Regions from separate parts of the Homo sapiens genome. Here region 1 is linked to region 2. A link means that fine-mapping ties the variant in region 2 to the expression of a gene that starts in the linked region. Tissue or cell type: whole blood. Region 2 holds a variant in brackets; the other region holds the start of a gene. All regions are shown on one strand. Distances are from middle to middle.

Region 1 (8,433 bases), 20 kb after region 2:
CAGAAATATGGAAATCAAAAATAAGTAAAAAAAAAAAAAAAAGTCATTCTGACTAAAAGCATAATCTTTACCTCTCATTTACAGGCAATAATTAAACAGGACAGAAAAGTGAGTATTAACCAAATTACTCAGTATGTATTGAAATATATTCCCATAAGACGGAAAGAACTAACATAGTCTGGGAAAATGGAAAAATATATGGACTTGTCCTTTTCTTTCTTACACGGTTTATAAAGTTCATTAACACACATCTATCTCTCTCCAACTATACAGCAATCTGTAAGGCAAGTAAAAATTATCAACATTTTACAGAGAAAACTCTGCTTTGAAATCAAAAGATCTGTTAAAGACCTAACTGCAACCACATCTGTGGCTTCCAGTATCACTACATTAGTAGTTATGTTTTCTATTTATTTAGGGTGGGGAGTTGGGGGAAGCAGCAGAACACTTTTTACAAATTAAATCTTCTATTGAACCTGAACTATAAAGCATATAAATATACCAAGCAACTTTCAAGTATTTTAGTAATAAAGTTACAACTACTGATAACAATAAATTTGTGTTCTCACAAGTAAACATTTAACTTAAGTAAATATGGAAGGAATTCTTTTTAAAAAGCCAGTTCCTTCACAATCAATGACAATCTTTCTCATACATGACACAGTAACAAAAAAAAATTCAAATATCTGTACAAAGATAGCAGAACAAATTGTAATTCAAGACCTGCACAAGAATAATTTTGTAATGAAAGATAATGGTGTTAGACTCCAGTTATTAAAATTATGTGTACATATTTGGGGGTACCCATATTTTTAAATTACAGTTTTAAAATAAGTTAAAACATACTTAAAAATTTAATGCAACTCAAGCATTTTAAAACCCCAAAGAATCTTAAGGGTCCATACGAAGCAGTTTGAAAACCATTGCATAAAGGTTTGCCATCACTAATTAACTACTTGATCTCTGCTTAGGATATTTAAGATAATCAAGTTAAAAACTGCCTTTGACAATCAAAAATATGTAACACAAGAAAACTGATTAACCAAGGCATAATGTAACTAGTGGTCCACAGATAGAGCAAATACATTTTATTGGCTAAACCATATAAAGTTGCTATTACTTAACAATTTTGACTATAAAAATGAGGCTCATATAGTTCAATCTAGTATTTTTCTTTTTTTTTTTTGTCTTTTTTTTTGAGACAGAGTTTTGCTCTTGTTGCTCAGGCTGCAGTGCAGTGGCGTGACCTTGGCTCACCACAACCTTGGCTCACCACAACCTCCGCCTCCCAGGTTCAAGTGATTCTCCTGCCTCAGCCTCCTGAGTAACTGGGACTACAGGCACACGATTCCACGCCCAGCTAATTTTTGTATTTTTAGTAGATATGGGGTTTCACCATGTTGGCCAGGATGGTCTCGATCTTTTGACCTCGTGATCTGCCCACCTTGGCCTCCCAAAGTGCTGGGATTACAGGCGTAAGCCACCATGCCCGGTCCTCAATCTAGTATTTTTCATTTTGACAGTATCTTTGTTTATAAAACCATCAAAAAGATGTCAAAATATATGATCATATAACAAAGTGAAAAGTGCAATAACAATACAAAGATATATCACTATAACTATCTTAACATTAAAAAAGTTTAAATGTTAGATCCTCTAAAGAGCACAAAACTATTCATTTAAGTAGCACTAACTGCTCAATACCCAAAGTACATTGGAATATGCCACTTTTTTATTTACTGGAAGATGAGTGGACTGATAATTACCTACCTTCCTCAATGCAGTTTGACACATGACTTTTCAAATTAAAGGATTATGTTCTTCTAGTTATCACTAGAATTTCTTCAAGTAAAAGATTAAACTTAAAAACTCGTTAACTTTACAAAATAAATAGAAGCATTTCCTCTTTTATTAAAAACTTTACTGAACTACCTCATTGACAATAGAGCAAGTTAGACTTAAGAGTTAGGGATTTCAGGATAGTTTTGATGGTTAATTTATTTATGGATATGGTTTACCTCTCCATTCTTTTTACTGTCCTAAGGTTACCAAATTAGGTACATTCAATATTTTAATAAGTCTCTTTATTTTGGAGGATACTAAATCAAAACCGTAAACGGACTTCTAAGAATAAATGTAATTCTCATACAATATATAATTCAATATTCAGGCATTGGGTTAAACCATATTATTTCATTTGAAGGTGAATTCCATTCCTTGTGAAGTTCCCCTAAAATTCAACACACTGCAACAAATTAAGCCACCTACTGAGAGAATAACACTTTCTGTCCCATATAAAGGTGACCCTTCTTCCATCATTATATAGAAATATAAAAGCAAAAGTAATTCACACTGGATGAGCATGAGTTTCATTCTTCCATTATGAATTAGACTGAACAAACATTCAAAATACTATGACTCACTTGGCTACATTACTGAACACTTTATTAAATGGAAAACAAGATAAACTCTAAGAATCACATTTTGAGAGTTATAGATGACTTTTAACTTAGAGTTATATCAACAAGAAAAACATGTCTTTATTAGAAATAAACTTTTCATTGTTATTTTAAGAATGATGAAACATTTAAAATGCTACATACTGATTCTCTTAAGAGCACTTCAAAGTGGCACTCTTTAAAAAGCTGCAAATGTTGCCAAGTCATGTTATAACTGGCTCAAAGAATCCTATTTCCATTAAGTTATTTCATGCCACTGCATGAATCAATATTAAATACCTTGGAGTTACTAAAAACTGGAATACTGGCAGAGATGTGCTCAGCAATTATAAAATACGAAAATGTGAATACTCTTTTTCCACGTTTCTTTTAATAATGGCTAGAAATGAGGATGTTCTTTCTAGGTAAACAGAAATAGTTTCCTAAAAGCTAAAGGAAAGATGTAATATCTTAAATGCTAGCAAAGTGTCATGGATCCATAGCCATAGCTCTCTCAAAAGAAAAATGAAATACATTTTGAAGCCTAATATTACCTCCAAACATTTTATTAGCCTAACAAATTGCCAGAGCCATTAAAAAATTTTTTTATCAAAGTCAATACAGTGCTCTTTTTCCTTATTCAATTAAAAAGCATAACTTGCTGTCATTTTAACCAGGCTGCACTTTAATCAAACATGTCTTAAATGACACATTTTTTCATGTCAAAGACATAACATAAATTTAAAAATTAAGAAATAAATTTTTTTGAAAGCTAAGTTCAGATGACATCTGGCCCTGCAGTGAAAGAGTTAACATCCAACTAAGCTGATCTGCACTTCTGATCCATTACATTTCTCACAAGCTACCCTACAATGAGCTGAGCAAGTATCAACTGTAATTTGATCCTAGAGTTTATGGAAAAAAATAACTGCACATACTCAACATGCACATTTAATAAAAATCTGTTTCAAGAGAAACATATCCAATAAACACAATTTAAGGCATATTTAACTGTTCAATTAACCTCAAATCTGCAATCCCTTTGCTCTCACGCTCTCAAATAAAATAGGAAGAAAAAAAAAAGCAGCAGCCCTACTGCAGGGAAAAGAGGCTTGAAAAACAACTTTGATTGGCACTTGGCCTGACCCACAGAGGAAGAAAAACAGTTTTTGGACAAAGAGCGCAAATATTTGAGCTTGCTTACTTATGTGCTTTTTTCTTTCTTCCTTTTTTAAAAAAAAATGTAGAAAGAACAATCCCAAAGTGAACCGTATTTAGAGATGTTGACTAAAAACGGTACCATATTCATCTCCGCTTTCAGTCCCGATGCATTTGCACAGCTCAGCAATTTTAATTCATTTGTAGTGAACAAACAGAAGCATCTCACCTAACGTTTCCACTTAATAAAATGTAAAAATAGAGTTTGAATACGAATAAACTGATTATAATATTACTTTGGGGCAGCTGTTAAAATCTGATCAAAAAGTCTAGAGACCTTTTTTTCATTCCCTTCCCCATCCCTCTCGCCCTTCCCCGCGGGGCGATTAAGCCAAGTAAGCTAAACAATACTGGAGTAAACTTTCTATCAGTCACTCTAGGAAGCAGCAATAAACTGATGGTGCGCCTCATTTTTCTGGATCAACACGGGGGCAGGGGGGTGCTAAGGAGGAATAACCCACATCCACCTCAGTCTTCTCCTCCCCCAACCCCAGCCTCAGGAACTGGCCAGGTCGAATTGCATTTCCCATGGGCATAAAGTTCAAGATGCTTTACTGGTTCCTTTCGAGACTGAACTACAGACACAGGACTACCATCCAAACAATTTGAAAACGGGGGTTGTTGAGCAAGGCGCGCAAGGCAGAAGCAACCGAATAAACAAAAACAACACTCGCAAGAGTTAGCCACAGCAAAGAGGGGCCAGGTTCCTCGGGATCCGACCCAGCTGCTCTGATTTCACACCGACCTCCATCAACAGCTAAACTGCACAGGGAGGAGGATCGAACGGATCCCTCCCGCCCTCCGCCCAAGGAGCCGACCCGGGGTAGCAAGGTAGGGAAATGAGCCGTAAAGGAGAGCAAAGGCACCAAATAAAAGGAACAAGGGAAGAAAAAATATCCCAACCCCTCCAGACTTGGGTCTGTCCCGGCGGAAATAAAAAGCCGCAGTAGTCCAAACCCTCCTGCCCTCAACCCACGCCCCCTTTCTCAGTCCCTGCGGAGGGACGGTGCCCGGGGATCCCTCTCAGCCTCCCCCAGTGCGCGCCCGGGGACGAGCCGCCCGAGCCCCGGCCGGCAGGAAGCGACCCTCGCCGGCAGGACCCCGGGCCGAACCCGTACCTTCCGCAGCACTTTCCGGCAGTTGGTACAGAGCAGGTAGTTGGCGGCGGCCGACGGGCTGCCGCCGCCCCGGTTCATCGTGGCTGCGGGCGCCGAGGCGAGAGCGGGCGGAGGGCCGGGTCCGGGCTGTCACTGCGGCCACTGCAGGGCCGGTCCGTCCCCCCGCCGCCAGCCGCGATTCCGCCTCAGCCTCCTCAAGGCGGGATGTCGGGAGGAGAGGCGACTGCCTGAAAGCTAGCGGCACTGCCAGAGGCGACCACCGCGGCAGCTGCCCCAGCGACGGCGGAGACGGCGGCGGCTGCTCCTCACCGGCCCGTTGTTCCACCCGCCCCCATCTTCCAGACCCCCGCCCCCGCCAGGCTAGGACGAGCAGCCGCCACCGCTGCCACCGCCACCACCGCCGCCGCAGCGCCTCAGTGCGGCCCCGCCTCCGCCGCCCCACCACCTTCACCACCTCCACGCTCCGGTACCGCCCCTCCCGCCAATCGGACAGCTCCGGCTACGCCCCCAGGGCGCTAGCCCGCAGCCAATGAGCAACGAGAGCCCGACTGGGAGTCGCGCCGGCCAATCGCAGGGGCCGAGGAAGCCTTGAATCTCCGGGCAAGTTAAGTTTATCTCCGAGGCTCGGAACTGAAGGGAGGTGGCGGTTAGCTAAGTAGTAGGGTAGCAGGGAACAGTTTGCTCTCCTCTGCCAATAAGAGGACGAGGGTGTGTCATATGCAAATATACTGCCCTCCAAGCCCCACCCCCAAGATAAGCTACGCCCCCTTCTCTAGGTCCCTGCAGAAGTGGTGAGGAGAATGAGATAAATAGTTGGGAGCTAGAGCTCGCTAGAGAGTCTAAGATTGAGCTAAATATTTCCTGATCTCTCGAGAAAGGGGGAGGGGAGTGGGAGGATTAAATGTTCCTTCCTTCAGGGCAGTGGTTAGGCTTTCTCTCCACCAAAATCTAACTTTAGCTGTAAAGAAGACTGCAGTTATGTAGTACTTTGTATCCAGGGATCTCAAAGAACTTTACGCATCATTTATTGTGAACCTTGTTTTGCAAAGATTTCAGTTACTTGAGGCTTGGGAGGCGGATAGGGGATAAATGTCTGAGTTATATATATATTTACGCAAGTAATCGAGTTTGAGGGGAGAGACACAAAACCTCTGGTTTAGCGGTTTCCTCTTGTTTGTGAAGCACCTTCTAGCAGTTATCTTAGAGATGTAAGTTCATTTACTTGTCCAGCACTAAAAGGCCAAAGGGGCTTGTTTTCTCACCCAAAAGACCTTCCTGAGGCAGCTGTTCGGATACATGCAGAGCACAGCGCCCTGCTCAGAAAGGAAGGTTCAGAGAACAAATTGTCGTTTAAAACTATTGGGACAAACCTACCTCTTCTAAAGCTTAAAATGGTAAGTCAGGGTTTTAGCGTCCACGTTCTGCGGAGAGAAGGCAGACTTGACTGGGGAAAGCGCAGGCTGACCGAGTGTGGCGGGACAGACGGGTAGGGGAGCCAGGTCTCCCGAAGGGGCTAGCAATGCGCGTCCGAGTCGAATGCGGGTTCCCGATGCTAGACGCCCGCAACCTGCTCCCGAGTGAGAACAAAGGCCGGCGCAGAGCGAGAACCTGATTGGTGCCCGGTCCTCACTCGTGTCCTCCGGGCCCCAGAGATAACTTGCATCGCCTACTGGCAAGGAGCTCTGTGCTCACTGGAGCCCAGCTCCCCACCCGGCCATGGCCGTGGCCACAGGACTGTGCATTATGACATCACCTGTTTTCGATTTTTAGAACCTAATCAGTATTCTCGGCTTCTCCCTTTTTAAAGGTCTCCAGCGTACCAGGATTTGTGAAGGCCTGAAGTTCGTAGAATGAAATCTATGTGGAGATGATTTAAAAGAACGGTTTCACTGGTTTGCATTTCTTTCTTTTCTTTTTAATTAAAAAAAAACAACAACCCTGGTTTCCTTAGGGATTCAGGGTGGTGTTATGCAAAATCGGAAAGGTACACTTGGAGGAGCTAGCAAGTTTAGCATATCAAAGCTATTAGACCAATTTGTGCGGTTAAAACTGCCATTCTCATTTCTCAACAGCTGTCTCCTCTCTGTCCCTTTTTAGAGACCAACACATATAAACCAAGTCTACACAAGAAACAAAGGTAATGGAAATCTGCTAGTATCAGGTTTAAATAGATCAAAATAGAGTAGAAAACCCCAAAAGGGTCTAAGTTATGTAGTTGGGTAAAGGTGTTGATCTATTTAGCCAGTGTTAGCTAAAGGTCGCTTGATGCTGTGTAGACATACATAACTAAAGAGCAATGAATGGTGTGGGGAAGGTGCTTAAGATTCAGTTAGAAGAAACTGTAAAAGCAAGTAAATTCAGAAAAGGAGGGAATTACCACATGCCCTTCGATGCAGAGAACCAAGAAATGCAGGGAGAAAGTCAGCAAGGCACAGTTTTTCTAAGAAACACATATGTGTCCCCATTTAGTGGTAAATTTCTTGGGCTATATTCCTGGCTGGTTCTGGCTTTTAAAGCAGATTTTATGTGAGTACATTTTAAAGGAAAGGAGAAATTGAAGGATGAAGTGAATTTTTGTGCAGATTGAATTTTCTCAAATAGAATTTTAAATTCATATTGTTTTCTAGCACATTCTTCTTATAACCTTTTCTTTTCTTTTTTCACTTGACAGCTAAAATCCTTTCGAAATGAGTTCCTTTAAGTTCTTCAGTAACTAAATCCTCCAGAAAGGAAAGCCGAGAGAATCTAGTCCTATACAATAACACCCTCTAACAAAGATCGCTAAAGGAAGATTTTAGTAGATGAATATCTTCAATAATACATGGTCACATACATGTATCTGACCATATGATGGCTCTCTGCACCAAATTCCTCCAAACTATTATAATATGTATTGTCTGTAGTGCTATTTATTTGGCAGTTAATCATGTATTACATTGTGACATTTCTTACAGTGAACCATTATGTATGTGTTTATGTTCTGCCCTCAACTACTCAATGCCAGTACCTTATTCTTAACACAGCAACCACCCTTTCTGGTCTGTCCTCACACCCTCATTCCCATCATAGTTATTCTCCTCTCTCATGGAAATGTTCAGTTTCTGGACATCTCCTTTCTCTTCCATTCTTCACCTGACCTTCCTTCCTTTCTTGGCCAGCCTGAATATTATAAAGGGAATTTTATTTCAAACCCAGGATCGCACTTAAGAGGAAAAGAAACAAAAGCCAGTTCTTTTTATTGCACATAGAACAAGGAGAAACTCCACCCCTTTTGTTGTCTGGTATGTTTAAAACAAGAAAGAACTTTAGAAAAGTAGGATATGAGTGAAAATTACAACCAATGTTGAGAACTACTTTTTAATTTTTTATTACAAAATTAGGATGATACTTCATTAAACATTGTACATCATTTCAAAACTGTTATCTCATAATCATGTTGCTTGTTTTGAATTATTCTTTTAAAGTGTAATTTTTTTAAGCAAAGAATCCATAAAATTACATGGCTTGGATGTACCATAACTTACTTAATCCTTATGCTATTGTTTAATATGTGGGTTGTTTCAGATTTTTCATGATTGTAAATAACAAAATAAACTTCCTTATACTTAAGTTTCTGGCAGAATCTCTGATTCCTAGGCCTGGAATTTCTGAGTAAAAGG
Region 2 (9,019 bases):
ATCAAGTGTTTCATTATTTTAATTTGCATTTAAAGACCCAAACTTTTATTATACATTACACTCTAATATTTAATAACAACTTTATACTAGGTTATCTCACCACCTGTTCACAAACTTCTCAGTGAGTCTAATTTGCTTTCCATTTCTACTACTACTACCTCAGTTTAGCCTATCATTTTATCCTTAGTTTATTGAGGGGGTGGAGTTGGGGGAAGGACAGTAGAGGAAGAAAGGCAAGATCTCCAACATTCTGGCCCCTAACCTAACTTTTCAACTTTTGTTTTCCAAGTGTTCCCTTATATGAACACTTCACATAAGCCTCAACACAGTTCCTAAATTCTGTATATTGACTCATTCAAACCCACAGCGAGTTTTCCCGTCTTCCAGATTCCCATTTATATGATGCCTGGTATCATTTTGTGAAAGAGAAGATAAACCTCATAAAAGTGGTTTATCTTCTCTTTCACTAATTTAATTATAAAAGAAGTGTTCTATCTTAATGACTAATTCAAATCAGGTGCCCAATAAATGTTGATTGATAACATACTATTTCTATATATTACTCAGCCTATTATACATTTAATGATATTATGAACTATTTTTGAACCATAACCACCTTAAAATGTTTTTTGGCATCCTGGATTTATGCCAGTCCTAAAATACACACACACACACACACACACACACACACACACACACACACTCTTATAATTTAATAGAGTTACTTCATAACATCCAAAGTTTCTCAATTCCTGTTTTGGCAAGAAAATTCTCAGAGTGCAGTTTTTGATAGAAAGAAAAAGCTATAATTATGCTATAATTAAGATCTGTGAAAGTAATTATCTTCTAATGATCACAAAGACTTCCTTTAATTTGTCATTCTCTTGATATCTCCTCCCATTTTCCAGATTAGTTTGCATACAGATGCTATTCAGGCCCTTTTCTGTTCTTTATCTTTCTTTTTTAAGTAACTTAACTAAGGATAACAGGATTTGTTATCCTTAGCCTGTACTTAAGGTTTCAGTGTTAGTGTACTAAATCAATAGTTTTTCAGTTAACTCAAAATAAACAGTCATTCATATCACCTAAACATTACTATTTTTTTTTTTTAGACGGAATCTTGCTCTGTTGCCCAGGCTGAAGTACAGTGGCATGATCTCAGCTCACTGTAACCTCCACCTCCCGGGTTCAAGCATTTCTTCTGCCTCAGCCTCCCGAGTAGCTGGGACTACAGAGGCATTTTTTTTTGTATTTCTAGTAGAGACGGGGTTTCACCATCTTGGCCAGGCTAGTCTTGAACTCCTGACCTCGTGATCCACCCGCCTCAGCCTCCCAAAGTGTTGGGATTACAGGCATGAACCACCACGCGCGGCCAACATTACTACTTTTTAAGTACTGAAAGGACATCTGTGAACACCAGAGGCCTGCACTAGGCATTCTAAGTTTAAAACACTTACTTCCAAATCAAAGAAATCAACCAACCAATCAGTATGTACCAATTAAATTCATTGTTAAGCAGCTTATGTAATAGCTCTTTTAAGAACAGAAAGTACAAAAACTGCCTAAAGGGGTTTACAAACTACTTGGTAAAATTAGATATAGACACCCAAAGAGTAATAAACAAAGTAATATATACCTGAATGCTAGAGGTAAGGTGATACGATGAAAAAGGTACTAAAACCTGAGTTATTTTCCCTTCTTAGCACTGAAAGGATCAGAGCTTTGATCATTTTTCAAGGAATTAATTTTCACATTTAAAAAATGAGAGACATTCCGTGGGGCCTTTTTGCATTAACATTCTATGGTTATACAGAATGCTGTGAAAGATTCTAAATGCTGGTAGAAAGTTTTCAGAAAGAAAATAAGCTAAATGCTTTAAAATTACTTTCCCATTATTTTGCTAGTTTAAAAAATGTTTTATTTTAAAAATAATTTTACTTAACCTATTAATAAACTGATACGTTCTGGATTTTTGGTAAAATGTTATAAAACCAAGATTAGAAAAAGGTCTATTGTAGATATATATCATATAATATCATATAATTTACATAATTTAATAGCAGAAGAACTGTAATTTTAAATATGTCTAAAATTCTCTTCAATGTTCTATACTATATGTTTTTTTTGTTTTGTTTTGTTTTGTTTTTTTTGTAGAGACTGGGTTTCATCATGTTGCCCAGGCTGGTCTCGAACTCAAGAGTTCAAGTGATCCACCTGCCTGGGCCTCCCACAGTGCTGGGATTATAGGCGTGAGCCACCACACCCAGCTAATTTATGTTCTTCATAAATGATCCAGTGAACAAAGCATACCATACTCTAAAAAAAAGAAATAATAATAATCTATTTATTGTCAGGATTATGGTATTCAATGATTTTCTTCTTTCCTTAGTTTTTTAAAAAAAATGAATCAAGGGATTATTTTAAGGTATTTTATGTAAATGGTGAGAGTAGTCTTTTAAATAATCTTTATATGAATAACCTTTATAATCTAGTAGTATGAATAACTTTTGAAAGTCCTCCAAAATAATGTATGGACTTGTCCTCACATATTTTTATTTTAGAAATATATTAAATAATTTTAGCTCCAGCACGAAGTATTACTGGTCCTGTATATATTAGTGAGGTTTAACTTTATGTAACTGTTTTGTAGAGAGTTCATATAATCATGACAGGACTTCAAATACAGCTGTTCCTTCCCAAGAATGTAATCTCCAAAAAATACATTTTTTTCTAAAAGAAGAGCTGCATGATCATCAGTGTGCGAAATGTGTTTATAACTATCAGAGCATATGGGTTGGCTGGTAGGTAGTAATTCCTCACTTAAATGGCTACCATTGACTTTCTTCACAGAATTGAAAGAAACTACTTTAAATTTCATATGGAACCAAAAAAAGCCCATATAGCCAAGATGATCCTAAGCAAAAAGAGCAAAGCTGGAGGCATCATGCTACCTGGCTTCAAACTATACTACAAGGCTACAGTAACAAAAACAGCATGGCACTGGTACTAAAACAGATATATAGACCAATGGAACAGAACAGAGGCCTCAGAAATAACGCCACACATCTACAACCATCTGATCTTTGACAAACCTGACAAAAACAAGCAATGAGGAAAGGATTCCCTATTTAATAAATGGCGTTGGGAAAACTGGCTAGCCATATGCAGAAAACTGAAACTGGACCCCTTCCTGATACCTTAAACAAAAATTAATTCAAGGTAGATTAAGGACTTAAACATAAGACCTAAAACCATAAAAACCCTAGAAGAAAAGCTAGGCAATACCATTCAGGACACAGGCATGGGCAAAGACTTCATGACTAAAACACCAAAAGCAATGGCAACAAAAGCCAAAATAGACAAATGGGATCTAATTAAACTAAAGAGCTTCTGCACAGCAAAAGAAACTATCATCAGAGTGAACAGGCAATCTACAGAATGGGAGAAAATTTTTGCAATCTATCCATCTGACAAAGGGCTAATATCCAGAATCTACAAGGAACTTAAACAAATGTACAAGAAAAAAACAACCTCAACAAAAAGTGGGCAAAGGATATGAACAGACACTTCTCAAAAGAAGACATTTATGTGGTCAACAAACATATGAAAAAAAAGCTCATCATCACTGGTCATTATAGAAATGCAAATCAAAAACACATGATTAAATCATGATCATTAAAAAGTCAGGAAACAACAGATGCTGGAAAGGATGTGGAGAAAATAGGAATGCTTTTACACTGTTGGTGGGAGTGTAAATTAGTTCATCTATTGTGGAAGACCGTGTGGCGATTCCTCAAGGATCTAGAACCAGAAATACCATTTGACCCAGCAATCCCATTAGTGGGTATATACTCAAAGGATTATAAATCATTCTACTCTAAAGACATATGCACATGTATGTTTACTGCAGCACTATTCACAATAGCAAAGACTTGGAACCAACCCAAATGCCTATCAATGATAGACTGGATAAAGAAAATGTGGCACATATACACTATGGAATACTATGCAGCCATAAAAAAGGATGTTTGGCCAGGCGTGGTGGCTCACACCTGTAATCTCAGCACTTTGGGAGGCTGAGGCGGGTGGATCTCCTGAGGTTAGAAGTTTGAGACCAGCCTGGCTAACATGGCGAAACCCCGTCTCTACTAAAAATACAAAAATCAGCCGGGTGTGGTGGTGTGCACCTGTAGTCCCAGCTACTCTGGAGGCTGAGGCAGAAGAATCGCTTGATTCCAGGAGGCGAAGGTTGCAGTGAGCCAAGAACACGCCATTGCACTCCAACCTGGGCAACAAGAGTGAAACTCCATCTCAAAAAAAAAAAAAAAAAAAAAAAAGAAGGATGAGTTCATGCCCTTTGCAGGGACATGGATGAAGCTGGAAACCATCATTCTCAGCAAACTAACACAGAAACAGAAAACCAAACACCGCATGTTCTTGCTCATAAGTGGGAGGTGAACAATGA[G/A]AACACATGGACACAGGGAGGGGAATATCATACACCGGAGCCTGTAGGGGGTTAGGGGAGGGATAGCATTAGGAGAAATACCTCAGGTAGATGACAGGTTGATGGATGCAGCAAACCACCATGGCACATGTATACCTATGTAACAAACCTGCACGTTCTTCTTGCACATGTATCCCAGAACTTAAAGTACAATTAAAATATATATGTATATGGCACTCTACCTTGAAAAAGAAAATTGCTTATGGAAGTGGTTACTGCAAGGCCTACAGCCTGTAAGTTATGAAGCAGCAGAAGGATGATCTGAAATAAGACGTAACAATGTAACACCAGATATGAATGGATGGAGCTCATAATACACTGGTGAACTAAGGTGGAGGGTAGATGTTTGAAGTATGTATCCTAATACACAAAATTCACTGATATGCTCAAATCATTCCCTAATACATCAATTAAAACAAATTTTCATTAAGTGTTACAGCAGAACTGTGAGCATTTTGCATTCTACCACTACATCACTTAAGCATAGCTCTTATTAAAACAGAAAGGAAGACTAAAGAAACTTATTATTCCAATATACTAGATTCAAGACTCTTTAATAAACAGTTTGTATTTTTAAAAAGTTAATTTGACAAAGTTCACAGGCAAGATAAAGGGAATGAGAAAAACCCAAACTTGGTAAATCTGCTTTTAATTAGGACATAGAGTTCAGTATAAATAATACTCTATAAACATTCTTCTTTATATCAAAGGTTTGGCCAGACTAAAAAAAAGGAAAAAACAAAAGCAGCTAGTTTACAATTACACTTGCATTATGTGAAAAATTCAGAGAAAAAGATACCCAGTTTTATCAAGAGAAATGATAAGATGCTCTGACACAATTATAGTGGAAAAGAATAATAAATATCCCAGATAATCATTAATTACTTCCTGGTGCATAGAAAAGTATTCCAGTTCATGCAATCATGTAAACAAGCCAATCATAGCTTCATGTAGAAACTTGGGGCATCTCACCCTCTTTATTCTAGAAAGCCTGTCTCTCACTGCCCCTCGTTGTTCATTCTGTTCCAGAATACAACTTCCAAGTGCACTGCATGGTGTGCAGTGTCCTCTTCCCCTGGACTGTGAGTATATGTGACTAATAAACCACTGTTGATCTCATCTGTCCAGTGTTAGGTATTATACGTTCAGCCACCCCCATGACCCAAGAGTGGCAGTCCCTCCCACAGCAGTGGGTGAATAGAAGGCTATTAAAATAGGCAGTGAGAATATTATATGAATAAATATCTGTAAAGCTCTTAAGAGTGTGACATCATCTATACAACTATAAAAGGCTCATGCCTATAATCCCAGCACTTTGGGAGGCCAAGGCGAGTGGGCCACGAGGTCAGGAGTTTGAGACCAGCCTGGCCAATATGGTGAAACCCCATCTCTACCAAAAAAAAATACAAAAATTGGCTGGGCATGGTGGCGCACGCCTGTAGTCCCAGCTACTCAGGAGGCTGAGGCAGGAGAATCACTTGAACCCGGGAGGCGGAGGTTGCAGTGAGTCGAGATCACACCACTGCACTCCAGCCTGGGTGACAGAGCAAAACTCCGTCTCAAAAAAAAAAAGTAACTGCTGTTATTAGAATTATGCAATACTGAGTTCCTTAGTATAACACAACTAGACAACATGTTTAGAAATTGTCTTACAAGCTAAAGAAAAGATTTACAGAATAGGCTGGGTTTAGAAAACTATCAATTGGCTCAAAGTAGGTCATTAATTCGATATTTTGTTCAACAAATGACCCATCCTATTAGAAATGGAAAATAAAATTGGAAAGTAAAGCCACTTAAGTAAAAAACACCCATTTATAAAATAACTGGTTATAGATACTCTATAATGTTATCTATAACACATTTTGCATTTTTGAGAATTCAAATATATATTTTTAAAAATCATTAAAAATAGTCCACTGAAACCACATACCTAAGCCTTAAACATAAGAACAAGTATTTAATATTTAACTACCCTTCTTTTCCATACAGTAATGTATTAAATTAACTGAAACATTATCCATGCTTTCACAAGTGAAGATACATAATAATCTATTAACCTCTACAAAAAGTCAAAAGGTATAGTTTTCCATTTTTAGCTATCTTTATAATTATTTAGAAAACATCTTTCTCTCTAACCACAGAGTAAGCTCTCTAAAACCTAGGACAGACTCCATACACCTTTTTTAAGTCTTCAAAAATCCTAGCATACATATTAATTAAATAATTCTAAAATTACATTATATTATAAAGTAGCCATCTTTTTCTATTTCAGTTCCTAATAGATAATATCTCTAGATTAACACACAGTGCTCAGATTATATATTTAAATTCCTGAAATTTATACAGTAAGTTTTATTATCTACCATATGGTATAAAAGTAGAGCAATACAATTGCAGCTATCTCTTGAATTCATAATTAAGGAAACAAACTAATATTCTGATGAAATATTAATAAGCACATCAGATTCCTAAAGAGAATGATTGATATGACAACATAAAAAAATATGCTATAGATAGGCACAGTACCTTCATTCATTTCCAGATTGTATTGATCTATGTCTACGCATCTGAGCCCTCATTAGCCTCCTACACACACATTATTATTCCCTTGGTGATTTACCCATAGCTACTTTGGATATCTATTAAACCTGTGAACATTTGTCTTTATCTCAATGCATCTTTAATTTGCCATCTCATTTGAATCTGCTCTCTGTACTATCCATCACTTAAATTATCTCTTCTTCTCTATTATTTCAAATCAGTAATAGCTTTTTAAACTTTTATAAAATATGTGTTTATTGCTAAAAACAAAGGACAATGAAGTAGATGGTAAAAATAATCTCCTGTAACCCCACCACCCAGAAATTAATACTGTTAATTTTGGATTCCTTATTTATCTTTTTTTAAATGAAAACAAAAATCTTCATAGTCCTAAAAAATAAAAAAAAACCTTGGTCTTTTCCAATCAATAACATATTGTGGATGTCTGTCCACTTCTATACATAGATCAGTTGCCCAGTATTCCACTGTATTTATGTCACATAATTTGTTTAACCAATTCCCTCATTAACAGTAACCTCAGAGTATTAAGCATTTACTGATGATATTTTAAAGATGAGAGCTGATTCAATTGAAAATGACCCCTATACTGAGATAAGATTTAGTCAAGGGGCAAACAACTTTACAAAGGAAAAAGACAAAGTAAGATTACCGATGACAATGTGGTCTTATTCTCTAGCTTCTAATATACAGCACTGTCATTGACCTTTACTGAAAGCTAGGTGAACAAGCAGCTAGAATCAAAGGGCTCTGCCTTTAAGTAAGTGTGGATGCAAAAGAGAACAAGGGAGGCAGGCTGCCAGTGGAGTCTTTTAAATAGGATAGGTGATCTGTAGACCCCAAATCGTAGGAGTTGGCTGAAAAAAAACTGGCATAATTTGTTAAGCTTTTATTTTTAATCGTTATTGCTTCCAGTGTTCCATGAGATAGCTCTGTTTAAATGTAATTATGAATGACCCATAATTTAGTCAGTATTTTTATTCTTTATGAGAGTAAAATTACAACCAGAGCTAGGCAACTCTTTTTTTCTCAGGCATGGACCCAATCCTATATCTAAGCTTCTCTAGTTCTCTATCAATCTGAAGATAATAATTATCATTCATTAATTCAGAGAAGGAATTCGGTAACATTTCAAAATACTCAAATAAAAAGTCCTATGTAAAAAAGAAAAAAGAAAAAAAGATAAAAGTTCTGCTACCTTAACCAGTCATGCAATAACTGACAGGAAATATTCTCATACCTTACTTTTGCCATACTGCTATTTTAGACCATGAAAATGCTTTTTAAATTTTCTTTTTTCATGAGATTCAAAGTCAAAAGCTGACTGTCCATTGCCATGGAGACAGTTCTATTTAAGGTACTATATTAGCCCTTTCCTCACAGAAGGATAGAAAAATGGTCACTAGAAAAGCATCACCTACCATGGTTTAGAATTAAGTAATTACATATGCTTCTGGGGCAGCCCATGCGTAAGGAACTTTGGAATTAAAGTGGGGTAATTTAATACAGCCTGTTATTCACATAAGTAACATCAATACAGGTTAAATTGTAGTATTAACTTAGAGGTAATATGAGGAAAACACCCATTACCTCAAAATTAGATACAACCAAAGAACAAAATAAAATGACTTATAGTTACTGTCCTAGATAGAACTGCAACTAACTGAAACAATCTTTGCTTTTCAAAGAGCAATCTTCTATTTACCTATGGTCCATATATAATACACATGGCTTGGGTTTCTTCTGTTTCAATTTGTAGGCCTCCTGTCTCCAAATGGAGACTTTCTGACACTCCATTTTTAATTGAAGAGTAAGCTACTATAGGTGAAAGAGAACATCCATAATTTATATATATATATGTATTTAATATTGTCCAAGAGATTCAAAAGAATTTTTAAAAAACAACATATCAATCCCAAATCTGTCATCAGGACAAATGTTATCATTTCTTCTTTG

The links. PIP is the estimated chance that this variant, and not a neighbour inherited with it, causes the effect.
Region 1: it holds the start of SESN3, and the variant in region 2 is fine-mapped to the expression of SESN3 in whole blood (INTERVAL, PIP 0.99).

The regions. Positions count from the first base shown.
Region 1 is chr11:95,226,009-95,234,441 of GRCh38, forward strand. SESN3 (sestrin 3) reads right to left here and starts at 5,194. Exons shown (of 10, transcript NM_144665.4): 1 at 4,775-5,194. The coding sequence starts at 4,852. LOC100129203 (a long non-coding RNA gene) reads left to right here and starts at 4,178. Exons shown (of 6, transcript NR_110295.2): 1 at 4,178-4,487; 2 at 5,117-5,565; 3 at 6,044-6,168; 4 at 6,582-6,666; 5 at 6,872-6,911; 6 at 7,446-8,396. RefSeq lists silencers at 4,748-5,057, 5,068-5,217 and enhancers at 5,573-6,212, 6,213-6,852.
Region 2 is chr11:95,205,705-95,214,723 of GRCh38, forward strand. All of the region lies in intron 1 of SESN3 (sestrin 3), which reads right to left. Among named protein-coding and RNA genes, the nearest start is that of SESN3, 21 kb to the right of the region's middle. The variant G/A (reference allele first, on the strand shown) is at 4,466.